4 linked regions of the Homo sapiens genome follow. The protein of the gene in region 4 interacts with the protein of the main gene of each other region in a pairwise test. Each region holds a gene or a part of one and is shown on either strand. Other genes may lie near its edges.

The links.
Region 1: the proteins of ANTKMT (region 4) and HDAC7 interact in binary tests that used the Homo sapiens proteins (3 or more experiments, as listed by UniProt).
Region 2: the proteins of ANTKMT (region 4) and DRC8 interact in binary tests that used the Homo sapiens proteins (3 or more experiments, as listed by UniProt).
Region 3: the proteins of ANTKMT (region 4) and MEIS2 interact in binary tests that used the Homo sapiens proteins (3 or more experiments, as listed by UniProt).

What each region holds. Positions count from the first base shown.
Region 1 is NC_000012.12:47,809,895-47,816,913, reverse strand, and holds part of HDAC7 (histone deacetylase 7), read left to right. Parts: intron 1-1,260; exon of another isoform or gene 1,261-2,239; coding exon of another isoform or gene 2,240-2,279; exon of another isoform or gene 2,280-3,833; coding exon of another isoform or gene 3,834-3,984; intron 3,985-5,960; exon of another isoform or gene 5,961-5,979; intron 5,980-7,019. UniProt on the Homo sapiens protein: Responsible for the deacetylation of lysine residues on the N-terminal part of the core histones (H2A, H2B, H3 and H4).
Region 2 is NC_000001.11:244,964,770-244,972,681, forward strand, and holds the start of DRC8 (dynein regulatory complex protein 8), read left to right. Parts: upstream 1-4,912; 5' UTR 4,913-5,216; coding exon of another isoform or gene 5,217-5,483; intron 5,484-5,485; coding exon of another isoform or gene 5,486-5,555; intron 5,556-5,556; coding exon of another isoform or gene 5,557-5,649; coding exon 5,650-5,674; coding exon of another isoform or gene 5,675-5,768; exon of another isoform or gene 5,769-5,801; intron 5,802-6,042; exon of another isoform or gene 6,043-6,100; intron 6,101-7,739; exon of another isoform or gene 7,740-7,912. UniProt on the Homo sapiens protein: Component of the nexin-dynein regulatory complex (N-DRC), a key regulator of ciliary/flagellar motility which maintains the alignment and integrity of the distal axoneme and regulates microtubule sliding in motile axonemes.
Region 3 is NC_000015.10:37,097,548-37,105,566, reverse strand, and holds the start of MEIS2 (homeobox protein Meis2), read left to right. Parts: upstream 1-5,017; 5' UTR 5,018-6,100; coding exon 6,101-6,112; intron 6,113-6,137; exon of another isoform or gene 6,138-6,319; intron 6,320-6,460; exon of another isoform or gene 6,461-6,666; intron 6,667-6,870; exon of another isoform or gene 6,871-7,367; coding exon 7,368-7,600; intron 7,601-8,019. UniProt on the Homo sapiens protein: Involved in transcriptional regulation. Binds to HOX or PBX proteins to form dimers, or to a DNA-bound dimer of PBX and HOX proteins and thought to have a role in stabilization of the homeoprotein-DNA complex.
Region 4 is NC_000016.10:716,720-723,099, reverse strand, and holds ANTKMT (adenine nucleotide translocase lysine N-methyltransferase), read right to left. Parts: upstream 1,955-6,380; 5' UTR 1,826-1,954; coding exon 1,664-1,825; intron 1,503-1,663; coding exon 1,398-1,502; intron 1,300-1,397; coding exon 1,159-1,299; intron 1,017-1,158; coding exon 966-1,016; intron 792-965; coding exon 543-791; 3' UTR 510-542; downstream 1-509. Other genes in the region: CCDC78 (coiled-coil domain-containing protein 78), read left to right, coding at 1-178, 311-422; METRN (meteorin precursor), read right to left, coding at 5,713-6,029, 6,108-6,167.

The sequences.
Region 1 (7,019 bases), on a different chromosome or scaffold from region 4:
ACTCGCGGGCTGGGGGAAGGCCCTTTGGCGTCTTCTGGGGGGAAGGGAGAGGGAAAGAGGGGAGCTGGACGCCCGGAAGGGCCCTGAGCAACTTGAGTCGCTGGCCTAGCCTCTTGTTTCCTCCCAACCCATCCCCACTGCCCTCCTCCAGTCTCCCTCCTCCTACAAGGGAGAGGTGGGTAGCATGCTGCCTGGGGCAAGGGGCAGGGGTGGGGGTGGCAGAGGTGGGAGGGATGTTTTCATCAGCAGAGCATAGCTCCTTTGGTCCTGGACCAGTTCCCAGAGGCAAAATAAATTCAGGACAGCGTCTGTTTAGTGTGGGTCTGCATGAGATGTGTGTGAGCACACACTGGGTGCGTGGTGGGTATCTGTGTGTGTACCCCTCCCCCCAGACCCTGTGTATGCTGATGTGGTGGTTCCGGGCAATTTGTGATCTATGTGGTGGTTCTGTGTTGGGTGTTTTGGGAATATGCACACATAAAAGACAGATGTGCATCATCTGTATGGTGCACACCTTTTCAGGTTATGGCCCTGTGTGGGGTAAACATGTCCATATGTATGGACATGTTTTTTGGGGGTATATATCTGGGCAGGAGTGGCTTTTTAATAGAAGTCCAGATGCTGGCTTGTAAAACACCATCTCATTTGGGATTCTCAAATGCGGGTTCCTGGACCATTTGCTTCAGAGTCACCTGGGGAATGTGTTAAAGATAAAGATCCTGGGCCGGGCGCGGTGACTTACGCCTGTAATCCCAGCACTTTGGGAGGCCGAGGCAGGTGGATCACCTGAGGTCAGGAGTTCAAGACCAGCCTGGCCAATGCGGCGAAACCCTGTCTCTACTAAAAATACAAAAAATTAGCCAGGTGTGGCGTGCGCGCCTGTAATCCCAGCTACTCGGGAGGCTGAGGCAGGAGAATTGCTTAAACCCGGGAGGCAGAGGTTGCGGTGAGCCAAGATCACGCCATTGCACTCCAGCCTGGGTGACAGCAAGACTCTGTAAAAAAAAAAAAAAAAAAAAATCCTGGCTGGACGCGGTGGCTTTGGGAGGCTGAAACAGGCAGATCACTTGAAGGCAGGAGTTCGAGACGAGCCTGGCTAACAGGGCAAAACCCCATCTCTACTAAAAATACAAATTTAGCCAGGCATGGTGGCGCAGGCCTGTAGTCCCAGCTATTTGGGAGGCTGAGGCAGAAGAATTGCTTGAGCCCAGGAGGTGGAGGTTGCAGTGAGCCGAGATTGCGCCACCTCACTCCAGCCTGGGCAATAGAGTGAGACTGTCTCAAAATTAAAAACATTCAGATCATCAGGCCCATTCCAGATTGACTAGTCAGAATCTGAGGGGTGGGGCCTGGGAATCCAGATTTTAACAGGTGCTTCAGGTGATCCTGGGGCAAGGCTGTGTTTGAGGACCACTGCCCTGGGTCAACCTCTTCATTTTTTCTTTTGAGGAAATAGACCCACAGAAGGTATGTAGTTTCTCTAAGGTGACAGGGCCATTAAGAGGAAGAACCAAGAGAAAACTCAAGGCTTCTAAGACCTGTCCAGGACTTTGTGCTCACCCATGTACCCCCTGTGTGTGTGTGTGCATGTGTGCTCATAACTACACTTTGTGATGACGTGGACCCGATTGGGCTGGTGCTAATTGGGGCTGATCTTTCCTCTGGGGTCCTGGCTTTCTTGTTTTCTGACCTTGTTCTTCTTGCTACATTCTGCTGCCTCCTTTTTGGAGAAATCCTGGAACTGTTGAGTGTCATCCCTAAAGGTCAATGTTGGCAACCAGGGAACCATGTTGCTGAGCCAGTCACTCAGCAATTCATCCATTCACTGGATCCTAGCTGAGCCTTGCAATGTTCTAGGCACTGGGTACAGATATGCAGTGAACACACAGGCACAACATCTGACCTCAGGGAACTTCCACTCTCGTGGAGAAGACAAACAGAACAAGTAGGCAAGTAAAGGAATGAGTATGTGTGACTAGTTACACACTGTGATAAGCCCTAAGAAGGAAATGAACTGGGCATGGCAATAAAGAATAACAAGGTGGGACTTCCTTTGATAGGGTGGCCAGGGGAGGACTGCCTAAGAAGGTGACATTGATGCCGTCTCCCACCTCCCCAGGTTGGAAGTGAGCCATCAGAGCCTCTGGAGCCGTGCTTGTGAACTCCCTGGATGCAGGTGGAGGCCCTGGGCTGACCAATGGCTAAGGGTTGGAGCTGAATTGCCAGCCTCTCACTTGGCATGGAAGATGGCAGTCTCCTCCCCTTAAGCAGCCCCAAAGGTTGGCAGAGGGGAGAGCAGAAGGGGGAGCTGCACAAGGCCAAGATCAAAGCCACTCCCTTGCTTGGGGAGCACCCTTTTTCTTCCATGGGGCTGAGTCCAGGGCCCTGTGGCCATACTGAATGTTGAGAAGGAGGCAGCATCTCCCCAGGAGCTCTCCTGTTTCACCTTCCTCCCACCTCCTTCCCTTCTCCGCCATCTCCCCAGTTGGGGAACTACTGTGCCAAGTCCCTTCCCTCTGGTCTAGCCTGCTGCCTCTGTGGCCACTTTACTTTACTTGGCTCAGGAATCACCAAAGAGAGGGGGTCAAGGCCTAGAGGGGACCTGGGCCCTGGAAGAGAGGACAGAACCAGAAAGGAAGGCTGGGGTTGGGACCAGAGAGGACAGGGCTCAAGGGAGGATGGAGGCTGGGACAGGAGAGGCACACGGGAAAAACCTGAGCCCAGATGGCCCTTTGGCTGGGCTCTCCAGAGTCTCTCCTGGGCCCTTGGAATCTGCTGCCCAAACTGGGGGAGACTCTGAGACCAGAGGGCCAGATGGGGCTGATTCAAGACACGGGCTCTACATCAGCTGGGAGGAAATGCCCCTGTCTGGTCCACCTGCAGCTCTACGCTTCACCCCTCTCAGGAGGTTAACTTTCACATCAGCAACTTGGGTGTCAGGTTCCGGCTCTAGGCCAGCAGGCCTCAGCCCCTCTCACCTCCAACCTCTTCTCCCAGGAAGGTTTTTCTGGGGACCCAGAGCTTCAGGCTGCAGGAAGGTGTTGCCTGGCCCTTGCCTTAGATTATTGAGTGTCAAAGGAGCCCTGACTCCAGGTCCGCTTTTCCCCCTGCACACTGCCAAGGCTGCCTTCCACCCTGGGCCTCTCTGGAGGCTGCTCAGTGCTCTTCCCGACTCCCAGGCCTTCCCGCCCAAGCTCCACAGCCCCCACAGCAGGATGGGGAGGGGACTTCTCCTCGTCAGGAAGGCCCTGGGCTAAGCTCACCATCCCCACCCTGTCTCCGCACCACTTCCTTTTTCCTCCATCTTGCCTGCAGGGATTGTAAACCCTGGTGGTCAGAAGCTTTGGGCCTATAGGGTCAGCCTCTCACCCTGGGGATCCGTAGGGGAACTCCAATCCCCTTCAGTTCAGCTTCCTCCCTGCAGGACCCATTCCAAGGAGCCTAGCTCTGGCTCCTGAGGTGACCCCAGCCCAGAAGTCCCATTCCCCTCTACCCCAACCCCCAGAATGGCAGGAGGAGCAGGGCAGTCTGGGAGTGACAGGTTCGGAAAGAGTCTGGGGTGGGGGAATTCGGCGATTGGGCTGTAACCGTCTTGTTTTGCTTGCCCCACAAACCTGCACGTCCGGGACGTCCGCTGCGCCCTCCCAGGCGCGTTCAGGTTATAGAACTGCTCTCAGAATGACAGGCTGGTGGCACCCGGCTGGGGCGGGGGGTGGGGAGGTGAAGGGGGGAGCCCCAGGCAAGGGGGAGCTGGAGGGTTAAAAATAGCAGCAGCCTTGTTTCGGTTAGCAAATGTGGAGGCGGGGAGCTGGAGGCGGGGCGGGCGGCGGACGATGTTTGCCCGCAGCGCAGGGCTGTGCTTCCCCTGGGTCCCGGGAGTGAGTCACGGCGGAGACGCTGAGGAGGTGCTGGCGCAGCACCCCACCCCCACCGGGCGAGGGGCTGAGCGCAGGCCTCGCCCCCCAGATTCCAGCGCTGAAGGAGGTGTGACTCTCCCTTCCAGGCAGCCGGGGCCGCCTTGAGAGTGAGCCAGGGGCATCGTGTGATAATAGGGAAGAAATGTGCCATTCTGACGCCAGAGATCTGGGTTTGAATCTTAGTCGAAAGGTGTGGGATCTTGAGTAAGGATGCTGATGGCTCTGAGACTCGATTTCCTAGTTTCAAGTGGGGCTTTTCTCTGTGCCCCACTTAGTGCTTAAAGCACTCTACAGATGTTAATTATCGCCTTAGACCCTACTGTATATATGGCAAAGCCTGGCAGGAGAGCTTCCTGTAAGGACGCAGAGGGAGGAATGGGATGGCCTTGGCTGAGTCTCGGTTTCTCCTGCAAGTGTGATTATGGGCACATTTTGCTCTGTGCCTCCACTTCTTCATCTGTAATGTGAAAATAATTACAGTTTCAACTTTATGGAGTTGCTATGAAGATTAAAGGAGATAATGTAAATAAAGTTAGCTCTGTGCCTGGTATGAAGTCAGGGCTCACTGAATATTCATCATCATTATTAATGTTATTGTTCATATTTTTTGAAGGTCAGGGATAGGGAATGTTGCAGACACGAAGAACAGAAACTGGGCCTAGCCCCAGTTCACAGAAAAAACCAGGCCAAATCCCTGTTCCAGATTCCTCCACCCATCGCGGCCTGGAACAGCCAGAGAGCTGTAGCCAGAAGTCATAGGGTGGACCCCTGCTTCTCTTGTTCACTCCCTCTCCCAGCCTCTCCCAGTGAGGCAGGGCGAGGAGGGACCCCAGGGCCTTGAAGCCAGCTGGCCCTGGAGAGGGGCTGCTGTGCCAGCTTGGGGAGGGTCTGGGATGGGGCTGCCCCTGATGGCCCTGATGTGGAGTACCTTGCCAGCATCTGCTGGGGTGAACTTTATTTTAGCCCTTCCCTTGTTGCTCTTATGAAGAACAGAGGAGGGGTGGGCAGGTCAGTGATGTCAGCAGTGAGTATTCCCAGCACAGCGGCTCTGGAAGAGGCATGAGGCATTTCTTTCAGGAAATGATCATTATTCAGCCAGAAGGCATTCATTAAGTAAGTCCTGACTTTGTGCCCAGCTCTGTGTTATAGGCCCTTGGCGAGACTCAGGAGGGGCAGAGGACGCTAGGTTGTAGATAACACGGAACCTCAGAGGATATATGGTCCAAGAAGACCCGGGGGCGGTGAAAACCCTGTGGACTAATGCTCACGGGAGCCCGAGGTCACACTTTGACTTTGCTACCATGGGCTGTGTCTATGTACGTATATATGCTGCGTAATTATTACAGAGGCAGTCCATGTGCATTGTGGATACTCAGACAGGACAGACCAGCAAAAACTAAAAAATAAAAAACATCACAGACGCATCAGTCAGAGATCACTGCACATCTTTCCATTTCCGTATGTGTCTTTATGTGTTGTAATTTTTATGAAAATGAGATTACTCTGCATATACTGTTTTTTCAGTCAGTGATTTCCACCTTCCATTACAGTAAATTTTCATCTTAACGGAATTCCCAGTTGGCCAGAAATTGTCCTTACAGCTGGTTTGTCCAAATCAGTACCCAGGACCATGCCATCTGTCTGTTGAGTGACCTGAAGGCAGTGTAAGCACCCTAGCTGGATTTGTGATCTGGAAAAACCCCTTCAACCAAGTCTCAAGGGCAGCCTGGCTGCAAAAGGGAATCAGGTCACGTGGAGAATCTGCCCACTAGACTTCTGCTGTCTTCCAAAGTAATAGGCAAAAGGAGGGGGATTCTAGGGCACCACTGGGATGGGACCTCTAGGGTATTTACTGTCATTAATGTTAATGTGGCATCCCTGTGAGTGTCAGGATTCACAGCTTGTGGCTATTCACATCCGAGATGCCTCAGTTCGGTTTGCCTGGTTCTTACTGAGTGCAGACCAGGGTCTCCATTGTGGCTTCTGCCTTCCTCTGCCCCAGATCCAGGGATGCTGATAGCCGTGCGGCTGTGTTCCTAGTCCCCAGAAAGTGGCCCTGAAGGTAGGTGCTCCCTTTTGCACTTGTGGGTGCTTCCAGCGCTTCCACCTGCCCAAGGCCTGCCCGTGAGTGAGAGACAGAGATAGAGATAGAGAGAGAGAGAGAGAGAGAGAGAGAGAGAGAGAGAGAGAGACCTTTTCCTCCCAAGAGAATTTACCCCCGAGTACCCACTCTGAGGGTGACTTGCTCTGGTTATGCAACCCGCATTTTGTAGAGGGCTTGACAGTTTCCAGAGAGCTCACGCAGCGTTTGATCCTCTGTGGCAGCCCTGGGAGGTTTGCTTGTTTAGTTATACCCTGCTGGAGGCAGCTAACAGGAAACACTGTAAAGTGTTTAAATGGTACACTTTAAAATGGTAAAATGTACATTTAAAAAGGAAGGGAAATAGAAGATGAAAAAGGAATTGAGGATGGCAGGGGTGGAACACAGCACACTTTGTGGGAACAGGCTGGCATTGGGAGCATACCCTAGGGCCTCACTGTGTCTTGCATCCCCTTGTCCCCTTGGTGGTCTCACCTCAGCCACTACTAGGAGGCAGGCTGAGTAAGCAGTCCACGCCAGTGTACCGATGCTAAGCTTAGGTTCTGGAGTCCCAGCAGCTCCACATACCATCTGTGTGACCTCAGCAAGTTTCTGAACCTCTCTTAGCCTTAGTTTCCTCATTTGCAAAATGAGAATAATAACAGTATATAGGCCGGGCGCAGTGGTTCACGCCTGTAATCCCAGCACTTTGGGAGGCCAGGGTGGGTGGATTCAGTGAGTTCAGGAGTTTGAGACCAGCCTGGCCAACATAGTGAAACACCGTCTCTACCAAAATACAAAAATTAGCTGGGCATGGTGGCTTGCACCTGTAATCCCAGCTACTTGGGAGGCTGAGGCAGGAGAATCACTTGAATCCGGGAGGCAGAGGTTGCAGTCAGCTGAGATTGTGCCACTGCACTCCAGTCTGGGTGACAGAGTGAAATTCTGTCTCAAAAACAAAACAAAACAAACAAACAAAAAAACAGTATCTGCCTTACAGAGTTGTGAGGACTACTTGCAAT
Region 2 (7,912 bases), on a different chromosome or scaffold from region 4:
AATCTCAGCACTTTAGGAGGCTGAGGTAGGATTGCTTGAGGTCAGGAGTTCAAGACCAGTCAGGACAACATAGGGAGACTCCATCTTTACAAAAAATAAAAAATTAGCTGGCCATGGTTAATCCTGGTTAGCACACCTGTAGTCCCAGCTACTTGGGAGGCTGAAGTGGGAGAATGACTTGAGTCTGGGAGGTCAAGGCTGCAGTGAGCCCACCACTGCACTCCAGCTTGGGCAACAGAGCGAGACTTTGTCTCAAACAAAGAAACAAACAAACAAACAGACAGACAAAACAGTGACTCTGAAATCAGAACTAGATTCCTAACCAGCTCTCTTATTTACTGGCTGTGAGCTTTAACCAAGCCATTTATGTGAAGATGTGGTATTTTTATCTGTGAAACGTGAATACTAATACAATACAAAGTACCTCATGCAGCTTAATAAAGAAGAACTACTTTTATTATTATAACTGTAATGAAACTATGTCCTTATTCTGTTGTATTCTGATAAGGATTTCCTTTTGAGATCATAAGCTCAGGGACTCATCTATGAGGAGGGGTGGTGTCTTCCATGAAGGGCTGGATATTTTTGATGATGATCATTCAGGGAAGGCATGTACCCTCAGTTAGGAAACTGAAATTAGACCAGAGAACTACCTCCCTCCCTCTCACTGTCCTGCATCTACAGCTCAAGGAATCCAGATACCCTTACAGGCCCTCCTGAATAGCAAGGTGGAAACAAGGAAGGGGCCACAAGCTGAAGATGATAAGCTGTACGGTGTAAACCAGATCGCATGTCATACAGGCAGCAGATTACAGCAGTGAAGGGTAGAAACCCTGAAGTCAGAACATCTCCCGTTGTGCATTTGAAGCATTAGAAAAGCAAACTCTCCTAGTGGAAGGTGAATTTCAGGACAGAAGGTGGGGTTTGGCGTCTGAGTGCTTCTGCCCAGGTGGAATGGGGCTTATTTCAGTAGATTTCCTTGCAAGTCCTTTAAACTTCTCGAAGCTTTCAGTTACATCTATTGCGCCTCGTGAAAACTCTAAAATAGGAAGTTTGGACATTGTTACTTCTATTTTTATGAGTTAATAAGTTTTAAAGAGATTACATGACTCGCCCAGGATCATGAGATTAGTAAATGGCAATGCCCAAGGAAAATCCAGTTTTTTTAAAAAAAAATTATTCCCAGTCCAGATTTCAATTATCTCCATATTAGGAAAGTAAACAGGGCATGAAGGATTTTTAAACTATCATTTTGCATTATTCCCACCACTTACCCTTTCCACTTCACTCACATCTTAGGTAACTGAGTCAACTGCATTCAAAAGAAACATTTTTGGGGGGAGAGGGGAGGGATAGCATTAGGAGATATACCGAATGTAAACGACGAGTTAATGGGTCCAGCACACCAACATGGCACATATATACATACGTAACAAACCTGCACGTTGTGCACATGTATCCTAGAACTTAAAGTATGATTAAAAAAAAGTAAAAATAAGTAAATAAATAAATTCCTTTAAACAAAAAGAAACATTTTCTGTGTTCCTCACGGACACATCACTGATGGCTGTCTGAACAGATTCAACTCACTATAAATTCAAGCATGCAAAAGGACATAACCTGTACATATCCACCTGGCTCCATAGAGTAATTAAGCAAATAAGTGTCATTGTCTAAAACTATGTGCTTGCTTTTCTGATTTAGCCCTAAGTTTATATATCCATGAGTGGGATCAAAAACGATTTTCCGATTCTAAATTTCTGAAAATCACGATGAGATGTTTAAGTGAAAAAATGCTTTGGCAGCATACAATATTACAAGTTACTCAAGTATTACAAGTTAACAAGTTACTCAAGCTATAGCTCAGAAGCCATATACATATATATGTGTATATATGTAGAGTATATATGTATATATACACATATATGTAGAGTATACATATACGTAGATGTATATATACTCTACATATATGTATACGTATACATATACGTATATGTATACGTATATGTATATATACATCTATCTATCTATCTATCTATATATATATATATATTTTTTAAGATGGAGTCTTGCTCTGTCACCCAGGCTGGAGTGCAATGCCATGATCTTGGCTCACTGCAACCTCTGCCTCCTGGGTTCAAGTGATTCTTCTGCCTCAGCCTCCTGAGTAGCTAGGACTACAGGCTTGCAGCACTATGCCCACCTAATGTTTGTACTTTTAGTAGAGACGGGGTTACACCATATTGGCCAGGTTGGTCTCGAACTCCTGGCCTCGTGATCTGCCCACCTCGGCCTCCCAAAGTGCTGGGTATACAGGCATGAGCCACCGTGCCCGGCCGCAAAATATATTCTGAGGAATAAAAATGATTGTAGTTAGTTTTCCACAGTCCAAAGCAAGCTAATAATATTTAAAGAGTTAAAAGTGTAATATAATCATCGGTCATGTTTCTACAACCAAAGAGAGTTGAAAGGAGTCAAATATCAGCATAATGCAGATAATGTACTCACTGGCATTGTGGGCCTTTATTATTTGGATAATCATTTTCACCTTGTGGAGACTTTTCCAGAATTATATACTTTTATGCCTAATCAGCAAATTAGGCAGTTGAAAAGTATGTATGAAGCAGCTAATATGTGCCCCAATTAGGCTAGGTAGTGTGGGTATATAAAAAGGGTTTATAAAGGGGGAGGCTCCTATTCAAACCTTAGTGGGGTCAGGAGATGCGGAAGTTAATTAACATATATTAAATATTTTTTTACTCACCCACACCTAGAGAAACAGTACTGTTTTAAATGTGCTGTAGGAGTTCAGAGAAATACTGATTAATGTGGTTTGGAATAAATTAAATAATAAAAAGCTTTGCTGAATACAGTTAGTTTAAAAAATATAAAAATATAGGGGGATTTGCAGAGAAATCTGTTCAACTCTTAAAATAATTTTTAATTTATATATGTTTATATAAGAATTCCATTTTATTAACATGAAATACTAGTACCTTTTTTTGGGGATGGAGTCTTGCTCTGTCATCTGGGCTGGAGTGCAGTGGCGGATCTCGGCTCACTGCAACCTCTGCCTCCTGGGTTCAAGCGATTCTTCTGTCTCAGCCTCCCGAGTAGCTGGGATTACAGGCGTGAGCCACCACATTCGGCTAATTTTTCTATTTTTAGTAGAGATGGGGTTTTACCATGTTGGCCAGGTGGGTCTTTAACTCATGACCTGAAGTGATCCACCCGCTTCAGCCTCCCAAAGTGCTGAGATTATGCGTGAGCCACCGCGCCTGGCCCAGTACTTTTACTGATGAAAAATGTAATGTAAAAGGAAGGTCTGTCTTACATACAATAAGTGCTGAATCTGGGTCTTTTTTAAAAAAAGTCATTGAGAAGACTTACTCCTTTCTTAAGTTTTAAGACATTTATTATTGCAAACAGAAAAATTGTACTAGATACCGGGGATATATAAACGAATAATGCCGTTTCTGTCTTCAAGATCTTACTGTTTGGTAGGTGGAAATAAAGTGAACGAACGAAGGCACTGCAAATCAATGTGGGAGGCTCTATAAGCATGGGGCCACAGAGGAAAAGGCTGAGAGGGAAAGCTTCAATGACTAGGTGACTTCAAAAAGGTCATCCTGGCCAGGCACAGTGGCTCACACCTGTAATCCCAGAACTTTGGGAGGGCCAGGCAGGCGGCAGATCGCTTGAGCTCAGGAGTTTGAGAGCAGCCTGGGCAACATGGGGAAACTCTGTCTCTACAAAAAATACAAAAACTAGCCAGACATGGTGGCGCGCGCCGCTCCTCCCAGCTACTTGGGAGGTTGCGGTGGGAGGGTCACTTGAGACCGGGAGGCGGAAGTTGCAGTGAGCAGAGATCACACCACTGCACTCCATCCTGGACGACAGAGCGAGACCCTGTCTCGAAAAACAAAAGACAAAAACAAAAACAAAGGTCATCCTGCAGGACAACCAGGAGGGCACAAATGTGTGTCTGTGGGAAGCTGAAATGTTGGCGGGGGAAAAAAGCAGGGAAAGGCATTCCAGAAAAAGGAAACTGTAAACAGCACACGAAAAAGCATAGTGAATGAATAGGAAGCCTGAGACCAAACTTAGGGTTTCCTACACTTATTTCAAAGCCCTTCATTATCTATATGGAAAGGGGGAGTCTTTAAACACAAATATTTAGATCATATTGACTGAGATTTAGATATAAATGAATGCTAATAATTACTTTTCGTTATTTTGGGGTGTTAAACATTTACTGTACAAGATTGTATTCGTTTTAAGTATCTTCTAACATGAGCCATTTTGTAATGATTCAGTTGTTTATATTCAATTTCAAGTAGAATGCTGATCACAGCGCCAAATGGGTATCTTCTACAGAAAAAGTTATTTTAATAAAGAAAAATATAGTCAGTTTTAGGATTTCCTGAGAGATTATAGAAACAATAAAAGCATTAAAACTGTTAAGTCATTAAATACGAGTACCTTGTATTTTGAAGGCTCTTAAAATTTAGTTTATAAATTGCTTTTACATAACATATGCACTGAAATACCACTTAAGATTAGTTTTGAAAATAGGTGTTCGTTTCAACCACATCATTAGGTATTTTATTCAAAGCTCTTTATAAAAAGAGCTTTACTATGTTCCAGTATAGTAAACTTATCCAGAAAATAAGACAAAAATTTAACTTCATGCTATAGCTGCAAAGTTTTCGGAAAGCGGGATTTAAAACTTCCATTGTAACTTTAACTAGCGGTCATGTCAAATTTCACAACTAAGAACATTTTAACGCATGTAATACTGAGCACAACATGGGCACGTTTTTGTTGCTATGAGAACCTTCTATTTTGTATTAGACATTGCAGCCTTGACGACGCAATGTTTGTGCTATTTTGCGCATGTTTTCCTGCAGCTATTCCTCTCCTCTAGCAATAGTCGAATGGCTCTGGTTTCCTCTTGCGCCCGGCCCAGTTTTTCCGTTTTAGCTTCGGTTGTCATAGGCTGTGCTGTCGCTTTCTCTGGGAAAGGACGGTGAAGACTGGACGGGAGAAACCGGGAGGGCAGGCGCGGCCGTTCTGCAGCAGCCGGGCCGCTTCCCGGCGGGAGGCGGGCTGCGAATGGGAAGCGGGAGGAGGAGGCCGGGCCGCGGGCTGGTTCTATCACCCCCTTGGGAGCCCAGCTCTTCACCTAGCTCTCCGGCGCTTTTCAAAATCTGCAGTTAACAACAAAAATCGAGCAACGCCACGTCGCACAAACAGGACAGGAGGGGGCGAGGGGTGTGTGCGCGCGCGTGCTGTCCCCAAATGGATGAGAAATAAGGGAAAGGAGGGGTTGGGGACCGTGTGATGAAGCAACATGCTAGGCCCGGGACAAGTCCGGCTCCGGCCTCGGGTCTGGAGGGACAAGGCCGGGGGCCGGGTGGCAGACGGGGCCTCTGGTCTTCCCCCAGCGCGAGGGTCGTGGCGCGAAACGGGGACAGGGCGCGCGCTCGGAGCCTCCTCCCCGCCCCGCCCCGCCCAAGGGTCTTCCTCCCCCGGGATTCAGAGCGGCCCCTCCTCCAGGCCAGGCTCGCCGCGGGGCGCTGAGCAGGCCGGGACACCGCGGCCGAGGTTATCGTTAGGCATCTCCCAGGCGACCGGCTCCGCAGCAAGATGGCGGACGAGAAGGACAGGGAAGGTAAGGTAGGGGAGCCGGGGAGCCGCTGCCCTCGCCGCCCGCCGCGACCCCGGGCTGCACGGGGAAGCGCCGGGTGGGGTGGGCCCTCGTCCATCTGGAGTTCCCACCCGCAGGGAAAGGGCGGCCTGAGGAGGGGGCCACCCGGCAGCAGCAGTCGCCCTGCCCCCGTCCCCGTAGCCCGCCCGGCCCGCCGCTCCGCCCCGCCCCGCCCCGCCTCTCTCCCCCGCCCCGCCCCGCCTCTCTCCCCTCTTCCCTCCCTCTTCTCTCTCCCCTCCTCCCGCCTTCTTCTTTCTCCTCCCGCCCTCTTCACCCTCTTCCCCTCCTCCCGCCCCGTCCTCCTTCCCCCTCCCTCGGAGGCCGGGCCTTGCATCCTGCGCGGGCTGCGCCGGAGGCGCCGGCAGGGGGTGCTGATAATGGCGTCGTTGTTCACGGTCGCGGGGAAGCCGCCGCCGCCTCCACACTCTCGCCTGGGGTCTCGGTGCCGCAGGCGCCACGCCCGTAGCTGTCCAGGCTGTGGGCCCCGGGGGGTGGCCTGGGTGAGGAGGAGTTCTGGCCGCCTGAATCTGACGGGATCCTCTGTTTGCGCCGAAACCCCGCGCTGGCGCAGCCTGATGGCGTTCGCGGCCACCATTTTGCCTCCTTAATGAGGACGCAGGAGGACGGTCTGGAGGTCACAGCCGCTGCCTCCGAGCTTCCCGGTCCTCCGAAATGCCTGCCCCGCCGCCGGCTAGCGCCGCGCAATTGGCCTAGTGTCTTGTCTTAAAAAAAAAAAAAGACACACACCCAAACAGCAATTTTAATAACGACGAAAAACCAAAACCTGGTTGAGATCTTGGAACCGCTGTGCGCCGGCCGGGCCTCTCCCAGGGGACCACCCAGCCCCGCGCGGTGGCCGCCTGCAGAGGCGGGACTGCGCTTCGAGGCTTAAGGTCGCCAGTTCGGAGGCATCGATGTGTTGTCTGTGCGGAGAAGCCAAAAAGTGATTACGTTTATTTGCAAGACCGTTCATGTTGTTTTCAGTTCATGGTATGATTAAAACCCGATCCTTTGTTACCATGCCCTTAGGTACTAAAAAATAATTGTGTTTGATAGTTGGCAGTCACCCAAAAATATCCAAAAAGCCATGAAACAGTAAAGGTAAACAAGTAGGAAGTGAAAATAATATTCGTCCTTTGTTTTCTTTCTGGAGTGCTCAAAACACCCTCTCAAACCATTTTTCTCAGCATAGAACCAAGTGTGGTCAGGTTAACAGCTAATATTTACAAGGGAAGAAACGAACCCTGAGATATTTAGTCACTTGTTCCGGTGATCACAGAAAATCGGCGAAGAAACACATGAAACTGCCAACGATCTCTCTATTGATAACAAGGATACCGTGATTTTTATGTAATATTAATCTGAGAAGCCAGGATTATTTTGTAGGTATTAGCTTTACGAAGATGCCCTTACATACAAAGAAAAGGATAATTTTAAAACTTTCCCAGAAAAATGGATGGCTTATTTTTGTTCTTTACCAAAAAAAAAAAAAAAAAAGCCATTAGGAGATAAACTAGCAAGGTAATTATGGATATTTATTTTCTTAAAAAAGACTTGGTTAGGTCAGCATGAGAAAAAACGCACTGGAGTATGGTACAAATACAGTATTTCTCGTTTTTTAAAAACTGAGAGCTTTCCTGATTTTTCAGCTTTTGAACAATTTTTTTCCATTTAAAGTAAATTCAGAGAAACAATTTTGTCGATAACTCATAGAAGTAATGACTGTTAAAAGCTGGATGCCATTCATTCAGAATACATATATTCAATGCCATTATGTAGATAAGGCATTCTACTTAGAACTTTGAAAGATACGAAAATGAAAGACATTGTCTTTGCTTCCAAGGAAGGTGAGATGAGTAAGGGAGATGAGAAATTTACAAATGGGAGGAAATAGTTAACTGGGCTGAGTAGTCTGGGTGCCAACCACTGTGCTAGGTGTGTATCCTTGTAGTCCGTGGACAGCAGCCTGGACATCACTGGCTGCCACCGACCTAATAATGAATCAGTCTTCATTTTAACATGTTTGTAGGTGATTTGTATGTACATTAACTTTCGAGAAGGCCGGGCGCGGTGGCTCACGCCTGCAATCCCAGCACTTTGGGAGGCTGAGGCGGGCGGATCACGAGGTCAAGAGATCGAGACCATCCTGGCCAACATGGTGAACCCCGTCTCTACTAAAAATACAAAAATTAGCTGGGCGTG
Region 3 (8,019 bases), on a different chromosome or scaffold from region 4:
TGTCTTTTTTCAAAATCAGTAAAGAGAACTTCCCTCCCGGAATAAAAATTAACCTTACAGAGTTTTTAAAGATATGCTTAATCCAAAATATTCCAAATCAAAACATTAAATAAAGTTACAGATAAGATTAAGGTTGGACTTATTTGCTTCTCTAGCAAGGCGTCAATTGTTCTAACTGTTGTAAGAAGACAAAAAGGATTTAAACCTGGCGATTTTAATACACAGATTAACACTTTGGACTTCTCAGTTCTGAGGAATTTGAAGTTATCTGTGCTAAGAAGCTATAACTTTCAAGGAAAAGAAAAAGAAACAGCTACACAAGCTCCTTAAGGAGTGTGGGCAAATTCACCTAGAGTCTGGGTTCATAAATTCTTGGTTCAAATTAAACACTCCCCATAAAGCCAATGCCCTTCAAATTAAGGGACTATAGTGGAATTCAATTATTCCTTTTAAATCTTAAATGTTACCTATAATAGCATTCCATGTTGGCTCAAAAAAAGAAAATGAAAAATAGAAAAGTAGCAGTTTTCAGAACTCTTGGGGCTGCTTCAATAAGAAAGAGGTGATTAAAAACAGACTCTTAAATTTGAGAGGCCCGATTCCCCCTTCCACTGGTCCCCACCCGCTTGGTCCCCTCCTTTTCACCTCTTTTTTATGCAGTACCCCCACCCCCACTCCAGAGCTAAGTAGCTGATTTGGGATTCTGAAGAAATAGGTTTCACCATCCATATTTGTTCTGGGGCACTTGTAAAATGCGATTTGTAGAGGGTCTTTAGCCTTCTGATTGTCTTTGAATTGTTTTTACTGAAACAGATCTTTTGCAGTTAATGAGTCCCCACGCAGCTGGACAGCTCCTCTCGGACACTGAGAACTCTAACCCCAAAATGACCCCAATTTGACACCGCAAGATGAAATTTTACCGCCTGTTAAAACCATTTCCAGCCTGGGCAGAAGGAGCTGACTGTTGACGGAGGTGTGTGCCACCTCCTGCGACCCCCATTTCGTGCCTGTCTCCCGGGCCTGCCCCACCTACTTTCCTTTCACCCCAAATATGGGAGAGCAGATGAGCCTGGAAGCCTGGGTGGGAGTGCCAACGCTGACAATGGGGCATTAGCAAAATGCCACCAGGATGGAAATCAGTAAGTGCGGGTACCCTACTCCTTTGGAATCGCTTCTATTGGACTGGAAAATTGGGGATGAGGGAAACCAGGAAATTCTTATATGTTAGATGAGCCTTTTTCAGCTCTATTAATAAAACACCCGCAAGTTGCTGATTAAAGGTAATAGTGTTTTGAATTCAGCAGACTGACCAAGAACCAATACCTTGAATCGACTCCAACTTGATCTCCTCATGTGTAATCCACTACACTAGGACTGCTATTTTAAACTAACAGTTTCATAAGTGACATGCAACTAGATCAGTAAGATCTCTTTCGTTCAAAGAAATTCTGGGTTCTCCCCTGAGACAACTGGCAAATTTTAAAAAGACATAGATTTCCTCCAGTAGGAATGCACTTTCAACACTCTCACACTTTTTTAACTAAAAGTCGTTGAAGTTAAATATGACTTTTTGACAATATCTTAAAATGTCATATTTCTCTCTCCCTCCTACACCTAACCATATTGTTCCTGTTGTTTGCTTTAATGTATTCAATAAAATGCAAAAGAAGTTAAGAATATGAAAGAGAGAGACAGAGAAAGGCGTTAAGGTTAAAAATGCCTTCTGCATCTGATAAAAACACATGAAAATAAAGTTTAAACTTTTCTTTTTTTGTAAAACCCAAGATTATCACCAGATAATCAACTCATTATTAGCTTACAATTGTTTGAAAACATAGAAATCGGCCGGGTGCGATGGCTCACGCCTGTAATTCGAGCACTTTGAGAGGCCGCGGCGGGTGGATCAGGAGGTCAGGAGTTCGAGACCAGCCTGGCCAATATGGTGAAACCCCCGTCTCTATTAAAGACACAAAAAATTAGCCGGGCGTGGTGGCGCGCCCCTGTAATCCCAGCTACTCAAGAGGCTGAGGCAGGAGAATCGCTTGAACCCGGGAGGCGGAGGTTGCAGTGAGCCGAGATCGCGCCATTGCACTCCAGCCTGGGCGACAAAGCGAGACTCCGTCTCAAAAAAAAAGAAAAAAAAAGAAAAGAAAAGAAAAAAAGAAAAAGAAGATAAAGAAAGAAAAGAAAATATAGAAATCATCAATCTGTCTGAGTTGTTTTTACTCACACTGCAAGGGAAGGAATATTTTTCTAAAAATGCGACTTAAGTTTTTCTAAATGAAAGCTATAGAGATGCTAACTCACTTTACAGTATCACTATAAAAACAGAAAAAGAAACAGAAGGTAGCAATGTTGAATGTTTAAACCCTGCAAGGCAGAGGTTCCGCATGAAGTTGATCTTTACAAAAAAAGGTTTATCAAGGACACTGAGGAATTTCTTTTAAAAAGAAACGTAACTGGCACTTATTGAACAAGACATTTAAAACAACAATAATCCTATTGGCGACGATAAACTTAAATTCTTAAATTGAATTTAAGAATAATTAGAAGAGTAAAAACTGAGTACAAATTTCTCAGCCAGCGGCGCTGCACCGGGAACTTGGACCCACCAACATCAACAGCTTTGCAAAGTCGAAAACGCTCCGCAGCGTTTTTGTTTTTTTCCCCTCCCCACCCCGCCGCACTCTCAAACCTCCCGGTCCCGGCTAAACTGAATTCGCGTAACTGTCGATTGAAATAAAATTCTGGAGACCAACTTTTTCTTTTCTCTTTCATCTTCTTTTCTTTTTTACTCACCTTCTCTTAAATGTCGACGAGCAACTCAGCAACAAATAAGGATACTTTTAATCTTGGAGTTCTTCTAGGAAAAAAAAGAGGACGTGGAGGAAGTACCCTCCCCCCAACCTTCAGATTTCCTACCCGTCGGCTCTAGCAGGCTTGAAGCCCGGCAAAAAAGAGTGGCTGAAAACCTGGGCTACACTCTCCTCCCTGAAGCTCCGTGAGTCTGGCCGTCCCTGCTCGGGCCATTGGGCAGAAACCTCGCGGCCCGCAGCCCCTCTCCCTGGCGTCGCGCTATCCGCGCCTCTGCCAGCCCCTTCGCACTATCTTTCTTTATATGTGAGGGCCGATTTCCCGCAGACATCATTGTTATGATGGCTCATTTAATCAAACTGTTTAATTGCTCTGGTAATCACTATCATCATCACAGGTGCTCAATCATTCATCATTTTTGGAGGGCTTTATTGACCTCCGGAGTTCATTCCTCAGCCCTATTAAAACGAGGCCAAATTTCTCCGACTCCGCTTGGAGTCTCTGCAGGCTGCAATCTTAGCCTAGTTTCTGTTGCTCGAAAGCTTACAGTGAAGCAGGGAACATGGAACGGGGGCCAAAAAAAAGAGCCCTCCCACCCGCCCTCCTCCCCGCTCTCTCTCGCTCTCTCTCTCTCTCTCTCACACACAACACACACACAGAGTACTTTATTCTCTCTAATCAACCTCCCCCATCCCACCCTCCCTCCGCGGGAAAGTCGGTTAGACGCGGCTCGCGGAAGACACTACTCTCCACTTCTCAGAATGGGTTCAAAGTTGGGGAGGGATGCGGCTGTTGGAGAACAACAGTCCGCTTTCCACTCTCTGGGCCAGGGACTGGGAGGGCGAGAGCGAGAAGTTGGGGAGAGGACGCGCTTCCAGCGCCTGTCCGCCCGGCCGCGCCACAAGGGGCCGAGGGGCATGGGGGCTGCTGGGCGGCAAGGCTTGCGCGGGGTGACCGTGGCTCCGCCCCCAACTCCGGGCTCGTAGTGATTGACGCGCGGCCGCCGGGAAACCAGCCGCGCAGAGGTGAAGCCTGGTGCAGCTCGGGCCAGGGAGGACAGGGCACCGGCCACAACTAGTTTCCACCCAAACGGTGTGGGGTAGTTCCCTTCGTTTCCTTTTCCTTTTTGGAAAAGTTCTTTCGGAGCTGGCCCCATCTCCCTGACCCCGCGAAATCGCCCCTGTGTAATTAACACAGCCATTAGCAGGCGTTACCGCGGCCCGCCGCTGCGCCTCGGGCGACCACAACAAAGCTGGGCTGTGAGCGCCGGCCACTCCTCCTCGCCCGGCAACTTCTTTCTCCCCCACTCTCTCCGTCTTTTCCTCCTGTGCTTCCCAGCTCTGAGTGAGATCCACTTTGGAGACGCACACTAGTCGCGCGCGCGCACGGGCGCGCGGGCGCGCGCGCGCACACACACACACACACACACACACACACACACACACACACGCCTTTGGCTACATCGGACCCAGATGACTGCCTCCTCACTTCCTCCCTCCCGATTCCGCCGCGGCCCCCAAAGACTCTCGGGGTGGCCCCTTGTCCGCACCGCTTGGAGGGAGTGTGCTCTGAGTTAAGCTGGTCTCTTCTGGTCCTGGAAAAAAATGAGTATTGACAAGGTTGCTGGATCTGCGCAGAAAAGAAAGTGCCACTTAATAAAAAATTTAGCCCGGCAGTGGTACCGTCTGCAGAGCTTGCTGCCCTTGGACGTTAGCAGGAAGCCTTCGGGGTGCTGTAATCGGCGGGCAGAGGAGAGGGAGGCCGCGGAATTAAAAGGAACAAAAGCTAGAGCGCCATGCCAAACGTCCCCGGCAAGACCCAGTTAGGCAGGAGCCGGGAGTGATGGGAAAATGAACTAGAAGTAAGTTTTTTTTTTTTTTTAAATGAAAAGATCTGAGGCGGTACCGTACTTTCCCTGTGGTTTTCTGCAGTTTTCCTCTCTGCGCTCTCCCTGTCCTCTTCTCTCTCCCCCTCTCCCTCTCTCCCTGTTCGCGCGCGCGCGCGCGCAACACACACGCGCGCACGCACACACATACACACACACTCACACACACAGACACACTCTCCTTTTCCTCCCCCCCGCCGTCCCCCATCCCCGTGGAGGAGCAGGCTTGCTGATTTGCTCGGGTCCGCCCGGCTCGAGCCTCCCCTCCCCCTCCCGCCCCCCCGCCTCCCCCACCCCCCCAGCCGGGGCTGTCCGATCGCACTCGTTGCATATCAGAGGCTCGGCGCGGCGCGCTCCTCCTCGCTCCCGCTCCCCACTCCCGGGATGTGTCTCCGCCGTACGACGGGCTATGGCCACCACGACTTCCGGGTTCCGTCATTTCGTTCTCCCGCCGCCGACCCGCGCCGCCAAACTGAGGCTCTTCAATAAGCCAGGCAGCAGCCAACCTGCCAACACCTACTGACACTCACTCATCTCCCAGAGAGAGAAAGAGAGCGAGAGAGAGCGAGCGCGAGAGAGCGAGCGCGAGTGAGAGCGAGCGAGCGAGCGAGAAAGAGAGAGAGGGAGAGACAAAATACCTACCAGGAAAGGGGGGGAGGAAGTCCAATTTTTGCAAACTATTCATTTTTTTTTCTTGATTTTTCTCACTGCTTTCTTTGAACAATACTTTAAAGAGAGAGGATCGTATTATAGATACCGCGGGGGCAAAGCTAAAAAAGGGGGGAGGGGGGAGGAAAAAATTCAAGAAGCAGAAACCCCTCGCGGAGTTTTACTGGAAGAAAAAAACGGGTCTGAAAGATTCCTCCTCTTCATCATCATCAACCATCATTCATTCACTACCTTGACATTCCGGGCTTTGATTGACAGCTGGAGTGGCAAAAAGCCATGAAACACGACAGTTCGGTTACATGTGGGCTGCTGACGGGCCGCTCGTAACCTTCAGTTCGGGGGCTTGACAATTTTTTTCTTCTTTTTCTTCTTTTTCTTTTCTTTCTTTTTTTTTCCAACTGAGGGGAAGAGAAGAGAAAGAGGGGGAAAGGAGGACCGAAGAGGAGGAGGAGGGGAGGGGGGAGGAGGAGGAGGTGGAGGAGGAGGAGGAAGATCAGGAGGAGGAGGAAGAAGAGGAAAAAAGAGAAAAAGAAGAAATATCACAGAAAAAAAAATTCTTCGTTGTCTAGACTGGGCTTTTTTTCCCCCCTAAAAAATAGCATATTGGAGAATTGGGAGAAGTCTCTTTGGTTTGGAAAAAAAAAAAAGGAATCTTCAGCCTAGATCACTTTCTTATCCGGACTGGGATATTAAATATACGACACATCCAGGAGTTTATTGGAGCGCAGACTGATGGCGCAAAGGGTAGGTTTAAATCTCCAACACTTACCTAGATATAAATCCTCTCCTAAGAGGGGCCTGTCCCGATGCCTCCTCTCCCTTCAACGCTTCTGCTGCTGCTCGCTGCTTGATGATGGCGGCCAGTATTTTAAAAAATAGCAAAATTATTCATCGGCTTCTTTCCCTCCCGTGCCTCTGCGTGTGTGCGAGTGTGTGTGCGTGCGTGTGTGCGTGTCTGGGCGCGCGTGTTCCAGCGCTGTGCGAGCGGGCGGGCGGCGAGTGCGTGTGAGTGGTGTGTGTGTGTGCGTGTGCAATCGTTACACGCTTTCGCCTCGCTCCAGCTTTTACCCCAGCAGCGCGATTCCCCCGGTTCTCCTGCTGCCGCTGCTGCGCCGCTGCCGCCGTGGCTCGCGCGGCTCGGGGCGGGCACGGGCTGCGTAGGAGCCGCCGCCGGGGCCGCCGCTGGGGCCGCGCTGCCGCAGCCGCTGCGCCGCCGCCTAGACTACTAGCCTGGGCTGCTTGTTTTGTCTCTGAAATTGACAAGGACGCAGGGAATCCGCTGCTAAATAATGTTTCTGGTAACTTTCACGTTATTCGCCCCCCCACCCTCCGCTCCCTGCCCCCGGGGAGGCACTGGCCCTAGTCTTTCCTAGTCCTCGGCGTTCTCGTGCTGATTATTAGCGTTTTTCTTCTCTTTATTTTGTTTCATTTCGCCTTTTGATTTATTGGATCCTCAGAGGAGGCGAAGGGGGGTTAGGGGTGGGATCCGGGGCTTCCTCCTCACACTAACTCCACTTCTCCCTCCGTTGGCTCGCTACGGTTCTGTTGCCTCCGGCGGGAGCGGGGCCTCCCGGCGCCCCCTCAAATCCCCGGCCTCGCCGCCTCCTCTTCCTTCTCTAAACGTTGCTCTTGGTTCATGCTTTTTCATTTTTAAATTTAATAACATTTTTTCCTCACAACTTTTAACTCCGTTGTTTTGGCTGGTTTGGTTTCTGTGTGCTCAACTTGTGCTCGGTACTTTTCTCCTTTCTGACTTTGTTTTTATTTTTATTTTCTCTCTCTCTCTCTCTCTCTCTCTCTCTCTCTCTCTCTCTCTCTCCCCCTCTCCTCCTTTTCCTCCTCCTCCTCTCTTCTCTCTTACCTCCCTCCCTCTCTCTCATCTTTATCCCTTCCTCTCTTTTCTGTTCGCCCTCTTCTCCCTGCTCTTTTTCCCTTTCCACCCCCCTCCTCTGTTCTCCCTCACCTCCTGCGCCCCCTCCCCCTTCCCGGGTTCTGACAGTACGATGAGCTGCCCCATTACGGCGGGATGGACGGAGTAGGGGTTCCCGCTTCCATGTACGGAGACCCTCACGCGCCGCGGCCGATCCCCCCGGTTCACCACCTGAACCACGGGCCGCCGCTCCACGCCACACAGCACTACGGCGCGCACGCCCCGCACCCCAATGTCATGCCGGCCAGTATGGGATCCGCTGTCAACGACGCCTTGAAGCGGGACAAGGACGCGATCTATGGGTAAACTGACCCCCCGGACCCAGCTTACTGTGTGTGAGTGTGAGAGTGTGTGTTTGTCTCTGTGGGGGTGGGAAGGTGGACGACTAAGTGGGGAGTTACTTCTGTATGGTGGGGGGCGGGCGCCGCTTGCCTTAGGAAGGGACCGTGGAGGGGGCCTGCTCTTCTGCCCCTGGAGTCAAAGCCCCGAAGAACTAGCCTCTTTCGCTCTCACAGCCCGACCACTCCAGACCCCACAGCCTGGAGTGACTGAGTCCCCAGAATCTTGCCGGGGCCTTCTCCCCGAGGACAGGATTCCTGGCCAAAGGACGCAGGACTGCTCGTTTCAGGCTCCCTAACAGAGGCCTTGACGAAGGAGAAAGTTTCCTGCCGATGAGAAGCAACTTTGGGTTTTTTTATTTTTTACTTTTTTTTCTTCTGTT
Region 4 (6,380 bases):
CCCAGGTAGGAGGCAAGGGCTGGCCCAGGCCCATCCTCACGCCATGCCCCAGCTCATGGCTTACATCCCCATGCCAGGCAGAGCTGGAACGGGAGCGGGCACAGCTGCTGGTCCGGGCCACGATGGCTGAAGAGCAACTTTCTGAGCTACAGGAGTACGTGGACCAGCACCTGGGCAGGTGGGCAGAGGGAGCTGGGTGTGACCCCAGGGCCCTGGTCTGGTTGGAATGAAGGATGATGGCTGCCTCAGGCGCTAAAAGCAGACCTGTCCACAGCTGGGCAAGTCACTTAAGCATGGTTCCTCTGAGCAGGTACAAGCACGAAATCCTGAGGCTGAGGAAGCTGGCAGGTGCAGGGGACCCCTGGAAAGTGGGGGCTGTGCCTCCAGCCAAGCCCCAGCATCCAAGGACCGGCAGCCACTAGGCCGTCTCCCAAGGAGCAGAGCAGAGCAGAGCTCCTCAGCCAGCACAGAACCCTCCCACCCAGCCCCCCATAAAACATGAGTCAGGATAGAACCCACAGAGTCTTTATCGTGTCTAATACTCAGCTGGCCTGAGAAATAAGGCCCCCCGGGATGGGGGCAGAACTAGGTCCGGGGGCAGCCTGGATGGGTATCCGCGAGGAGGCGGCCTCCCCAGCCTGCCCACCCTCAGGAACATCATAAGCCCATACTCGGTCCAGGCCCTCGCCAACCGCGGTCACAGGCTGCCAGGTGGGGAGTGGGAAGCGCCCAGACACCACGCGGGCCCCAGCAGGCAGCTCTGTCCGCAGCTTGTCCTCCAGCAGCGGGAGCTGAGGGAGAGAACAGCAGAGTAGAGGGGGCGGGGGCGGGGCCGGTAGAAAACAGCCGCGCTCACCCCCCTAGCCCCAAGCCTAGCACCCACCAGGCAGGCCCAGGCCTCAGAGCAGCAAACACCCTGGGGTGTGGCTGGGGCTTCCCAGCGGGGCTGGCAACCCCGCACCTACCACGCTAGGGGCCAGGAACACAGACACGTTGCGGCAGTCCCTCAGGCTCACCTGCCGGAAGAGAAGTCGCCCCGGCCGGGGAGAGGCCTGGTGGGCACCGGGTCATCGCAGCTTCCGAGTCCCGGCCCCCAGCCCTCGCAGGTGTCAGCCGCACCTTGGGCTGTCAGCGGGTGGCCAGGGATCCCCAGGTTACCTTCCAGAGATCCTTGCGGCGATAGCAGACGCTGCCGGCACAGCCGGCCCTCCAGGCGTGCAGCCGCGCCAGCGCCACCAGCCAGGGGTTCAGCTCGTAGCCCACGGCCGGGCGGAGGCCGCACCTGTGGGCCGCCAGCACCTGTGGGCACCGAGAGTGTGGGAACCAGGATGTGGGCAGGGGCGCCCGCCAGCAGGTGGGCGGTGTGGGGCGGCGAAGACCCAGACGCAGGCACTTACGATCCTGCCGTCGCCAGAGCCCAGATCCACCGTTTTTCCGGGGCGTCCTCGCAGCAGCGACAACACGTGCTCCACCTGCCGCGCGCTCGCGCCGACGTAGGGCACCTGGACCGGGTGGCGGCGAGAGTCCACTGGCCGCTCCCGCCCCGCCCGCAGCCCGGCCCGAACTACCACACGGCGGGGCGGAGCTCACCCCGGCCACGCCCAGACCTTGAGACCCTGAGCGGCAGCCGAGCTCCCCTGCCCGGCCTGGCCCCGCCCCGCACCTGCAGCCGCAGCGGCACGCGCCGGAAGCCGGGCTGGAGCAGCAGCGCCCACACCGCGTAGGCTGCCAAGCCCGAGCCGGCCGCCGCCTGCAGCAGCTCCAGCGCGCCCAGCCGCCGCTCGCGCAGCTCCGTCAGCGCCTCGACCGGGTCGTCCTGCTCCATGGCTGCGGGACGCGCGGCTCGTCCGCCCAAGGTCCTTCCCGGCTCGGGTCCGCGGCCCTCGCAGCCTGGCCTGGGGCTGGCGGTGTGCCCTCTGCCTCCTGCCGGGAGCCGCCGCGCGACACCGGAAGTGGCCGGCAGAGCCTGCGCGGTCGGTCCGTGGCGCTGTGCGCTCCGCCCAGCCCGGCTGCCCTCCCGCGGGTTCCGGCGAGCTGCAGCCTCGGGGGCTCTGCCCCGCCGCGTCCGGCTCCAAGCCTGCGAGGGTCGGCTCCGTTGGTCCGCTCTGCGGACCGCCGTTTGCGGCCTGTGCTGGCTGCTGGCGACCCGCGGAAGGGGACAGGCAGGCCCTGCCCTGGGGGAGCGCACGTGCCGGCGGGAGTCGGGATACACCCGGCGATCTCACGGGCTAGAGCCCCAGGGAAACGGGGCTGCGCGTCTTTGTCGTGGAATGAAGGGAAGTCTGCCTTGGAGAGGGGCGGTCCTGGCCCCAGAACCAGCCGGGGGCTCGCGTGGGGCGGCTGGAGCCCAGGGAGCCGGTGGGAAAGCGGCTCCCCGGGATGAGACAGCGTCCAGGCGCCAGCACCCCCATGACTCTGCCTCGGGGAGACTGCTGGGGGCGCTCCGCTGACTCGGACACCCAGCGCCAGCCAGAGCCCGGGAGGACATCCTTCCATTTCCCTCCTACAGCCTGAGCGATGAGCCCCAGTGGGCGGTGAAGGGATGGGGGGTGGGGTCTGAGGGAGAAGGGCATGGAGGAGGGGCTGACACGGAGGAGAGCTTGAGCAGGCCCAAGAAGACAGATGCTGGCTCTCAGGCGAGTGTGGTGGGAGGAAAGCCGGATGTCACAGGCGGGGGCCTCTGGCACCTGCCAGCTACAGGGAAGGCAGACAGCCCCGGGAGTGGGGAGATCACCTTCCTTCTCCAGAAAACAACACACAAAAAGACTGAGTTCCTGGAGGTGACCTTGTGAAGCTGGGGGTGGGAAGCGCAAGTGGAAGAGCCGAGCTCTGGGTCAGGCAGCTGGGCCACGACCTCCACACCCAGGGTAGGGCTGAACACCCGTGAATGTCGGGGGTTGTCTATGCGTGCCCTGGCCTAGCTCCTCCTTAGCCATCCGTGGCTGGGGTCTAGAGCCCCTGCAGGGACAGAGGCTGCTTCCAGACATGGGTATGCCGCAGACCACAGCCCCCAGCTCCCAAGTGCAGAGTCTCACAGGCCTGCCCACGTTGGCCCCAGCCCCACCCAGCTCAGCGTGTCCTGTCTCCTGGGGGCCTGGAACGGCCCTCCCAGGAAAGGAAGGGTGTATGTACACTGAGCTCTAGGGGGAGCTGACAGCGCCCATTCCTGTCCTGCTGCCTGCATTATTCCCTGCACCTAGAGCAGTTACCTAGGAGGCTTACTGGATGAATGCACCTAATTGGACTCTAGCGTGCACTCTCCACTCTTCTTTTTTTTTTTTTTTTTTTTTTTTTTTTTTTTTTGAGACTTGAGTCTCGCTCTTTCGCCCAGGTTGGAGTGCAGTGGCGCAGTCTTGGCTCACTGCAACCTCTGCCTTCCAGGTTCAAGTGATTCCTCTGCCTCAGCCTTTTGAGTAGCTGGGATTACAGATGCATGCCACCATGTCTGGCTAATTTTTTGTGTTTTATTAGAGACGGTTTCACCATGTTGGCCAGGATGGTCTCCATCTCCTGACCTCATGATCTGCTTGCCTGGGCCTCCCAAAGTGTTGGGATTACAGGCGTGAGCCACTGCGCCCAACCTCCCCACTCCTCTCCCGTCCACACCAGGCACTCTGCTGCTTGGCCTTTGGGCACTCTGCAGCCACCTGTACCTGTGTGAACTGGCACTTGCCTGGCGGTGTCTGTGATCCACAGGCCCCAGGCTCCTGTAGCTCCTGCCCACCTGCTCACCCACACTGTCTCCCTATCTCCCATGCCACTTTGGCCACCTGTCCCCAGGGCAGGCATGAAGCCCCTGGTCTAATGCTCCAAGACCCATTTGGGCACCGTGGTGCTCCTGTGGCCCTGTGTCTCATGAGAAGACAGCTGGTTGCAAAGCCAGGGCTTTCTCTGGGAGGGTCTGTAGGTGCAAGGCTCAGGCACTTCCTGAGACAGGTAGGTAGAAGCCAGGGTTCGGCCAGGGCCCAGCCCAGGGTGTTTGTGAACAGGTGGACTTGGGTGTGGCTGAAAAGGAGAGGTTGTAGGAAGCTGGCCAGAGAATCAGGGCAAGTGCCAAAGGTAAGGGGGTTGCTCGGCCCACGGGAAAGCCTCTCCAAGACAGGAGTGGAGGAGGCGGTGCAGGAGGGCACACGGGCTACCTCCTTTTCTAGTGTTTGCAGAAGTGTTTGGGCTGGGGGCAGATGGATGTAAGGCTATGGGCCCCAGGGAGTGGTCAGGGCTGAAGATGAAAAAGTGGAGGTTGTCCAAGGGTTATTGGAGGCTGCCCCAGAGGAGCGGTCCTGTGCCTGAGCCCTCAGCGTGCCACAGTTGGGAGAGGAGAGAAGCAGCAAGGAACCTGAGGAGGGGCAGAAGGTGGGAGAACCCCCACAGTGCATGACACCCAGTGGCTGCGCTCCTCACCCATCCTCATCAGCCCTGCGGCAGGCAGGTGATCTGTGTGAAAGGGTAAGTCTCTTGCACGTGCAGTGGAAGTCCCAGGGCGGCGCTGGAGGTGACCCCCCTCCCCAGGTGTCCACAGAGGGCATGGCACTCATCAGGCATCTGCATCCGCTAACCTAGAGAAAGGACCGTGTTTGTGGGCCCTGCACAGCTGTGTCCCTCACACAGCCTCAGTTTCCCCCTTGAAAGCTGGGGGCTTCATCTGCCTGGGCAGGGCCTCTGGCCTCCACCCCCACCCCGGCCCAGGCGAGAATGGAAAGCCATTTCTGGGGCTCAGCCCAGGGGTCCCTGGCCCTTGAGCCATGGCTGTCTCTTTCCCAGGATCCGAGGGGTTGGGGTGAGAGGAGGCAGCTCACACAGGGCCAGGTGTCCTGGAACACCCCCACCCAGGGGCTTTTAGCCTCGGAGCCTTGGGCTGTGGCTGTCCCAAACCTCACTGGCCCTTTATGCGGCTGAAAGGCCGAGGAGGAAGGCGGAGACAGTGACAATGGGGCCAGTGGCGGGAAACGGTCCTTAGAGACCCCATTGTGCACCCCGCCCGCCGGAAACAGGCAACAAGCAGGACCCTGCAGAGGGGACCCCACACCCTTCGGGCTCCTCGCCACGTCTGGATGCTCAGCACGTCGAAGGGGCCTGAGGACAGAGGGGCCCATTCTTCCCCAAGGGCGGGACGGGGCCAAGGATGACTCTGCGGGCTCACAGCAGCCATGGGGGAAGTCGGCACCCTGCCAGCCTGCAGCCCCTTCCCTCACAGGCCTGGCTCAGAGCCGGAGCGCTGTGCGCCCGCCTGCCCCCACCGTACCCGAGGGACCCTATGCCCCTCTGCCCCTTTCCTCTCCTGCTGAGCCCCAGAAGCACCTGGCACGGGAGGCAAGTGGGAGCCAGCCAGGGAAGCAGGCAAGGGTGCGGGCAAGGACGGGGCTGGTGGGTGCAGCAGAGCAGAAGCTTGCATGAGTGCAGGTCCCCACGTGCCCCCCACCCAGCAGCGGCCCCTCCCCGGAATGTGGGTGTAGCTCCTCCTGACATCTGCTCTCCCTCTCAGTTGCCAAATGGTCTTGAACAAGATACCATTCCCCTGAGCCTCAGTCTCCCGCCAGGAGGCAGGAATTGGAGCCATCCTCACAGCTGCGAGGCAGGCCCAAGGCTGGGCTGGACACAGGAGACCAGGTCCACAGCAGCTTGCGTGAACAGAGTTCTTATTGATAGTCCCATCACCTCCAAAGCAGTGGGCCCACCCTCCCTCCTACCAGCCCCTCCCCAGCACCCAGCCCCTCAGTGCAGCGCCACCTCGCAGGGGTGGAGGTGGGCAGCACGGGCAGCCTCGTAGGCACGGCGGAACTCCTGGAATCGTGGGGCACAGCCCAGCCGGGCCTCCCCAAAGCGGCTCCAGCCCATGAAGAGGAAGGTGCCTGGGCCCGGGTGGACGCCACAGCGCAGTGGGGTACGAATGGAGGTCAGCCCCTGGTCCCCGGATCGCCCCGCCTGGAACAGCGGCGGTGTCTGGCGGAGGACACGGGCGGCCACCACAGTGATGACAGACTCCTGCAGCTCCACGTCATGGGTGACCCCATGGATGATCCCGTGAATTACTGTGGGGAGGCATGTGGCTGCGGTAGGCATTCAGGGGAAGGCAGGCTCCAGGCTCCCCCCATGGCGGGGACACTCACCGAAGTCGCTGGTGCATGCGGCCAGGAGCAGCTCAGCGTCGCTGCAGGGCCTGCAGGCACCTGGCATGCAGAGGGGGTGGTGAGGAGAGGCCCTGCCCTCTCCCGGCATCACCCCAGGCCCCGTCCCTTGTCCGCACAAGCGGCAGGAGGCAGCAGGCAAATGAGCAGAGCCCACGCTCAGGGCCTGATGGCACCTGGGGGTCCCAGAGAGCTACACAGCAGATGTGCACGCCCTCGGCGACACCTGTACTCAGGAAACACACTTGCAGGCGC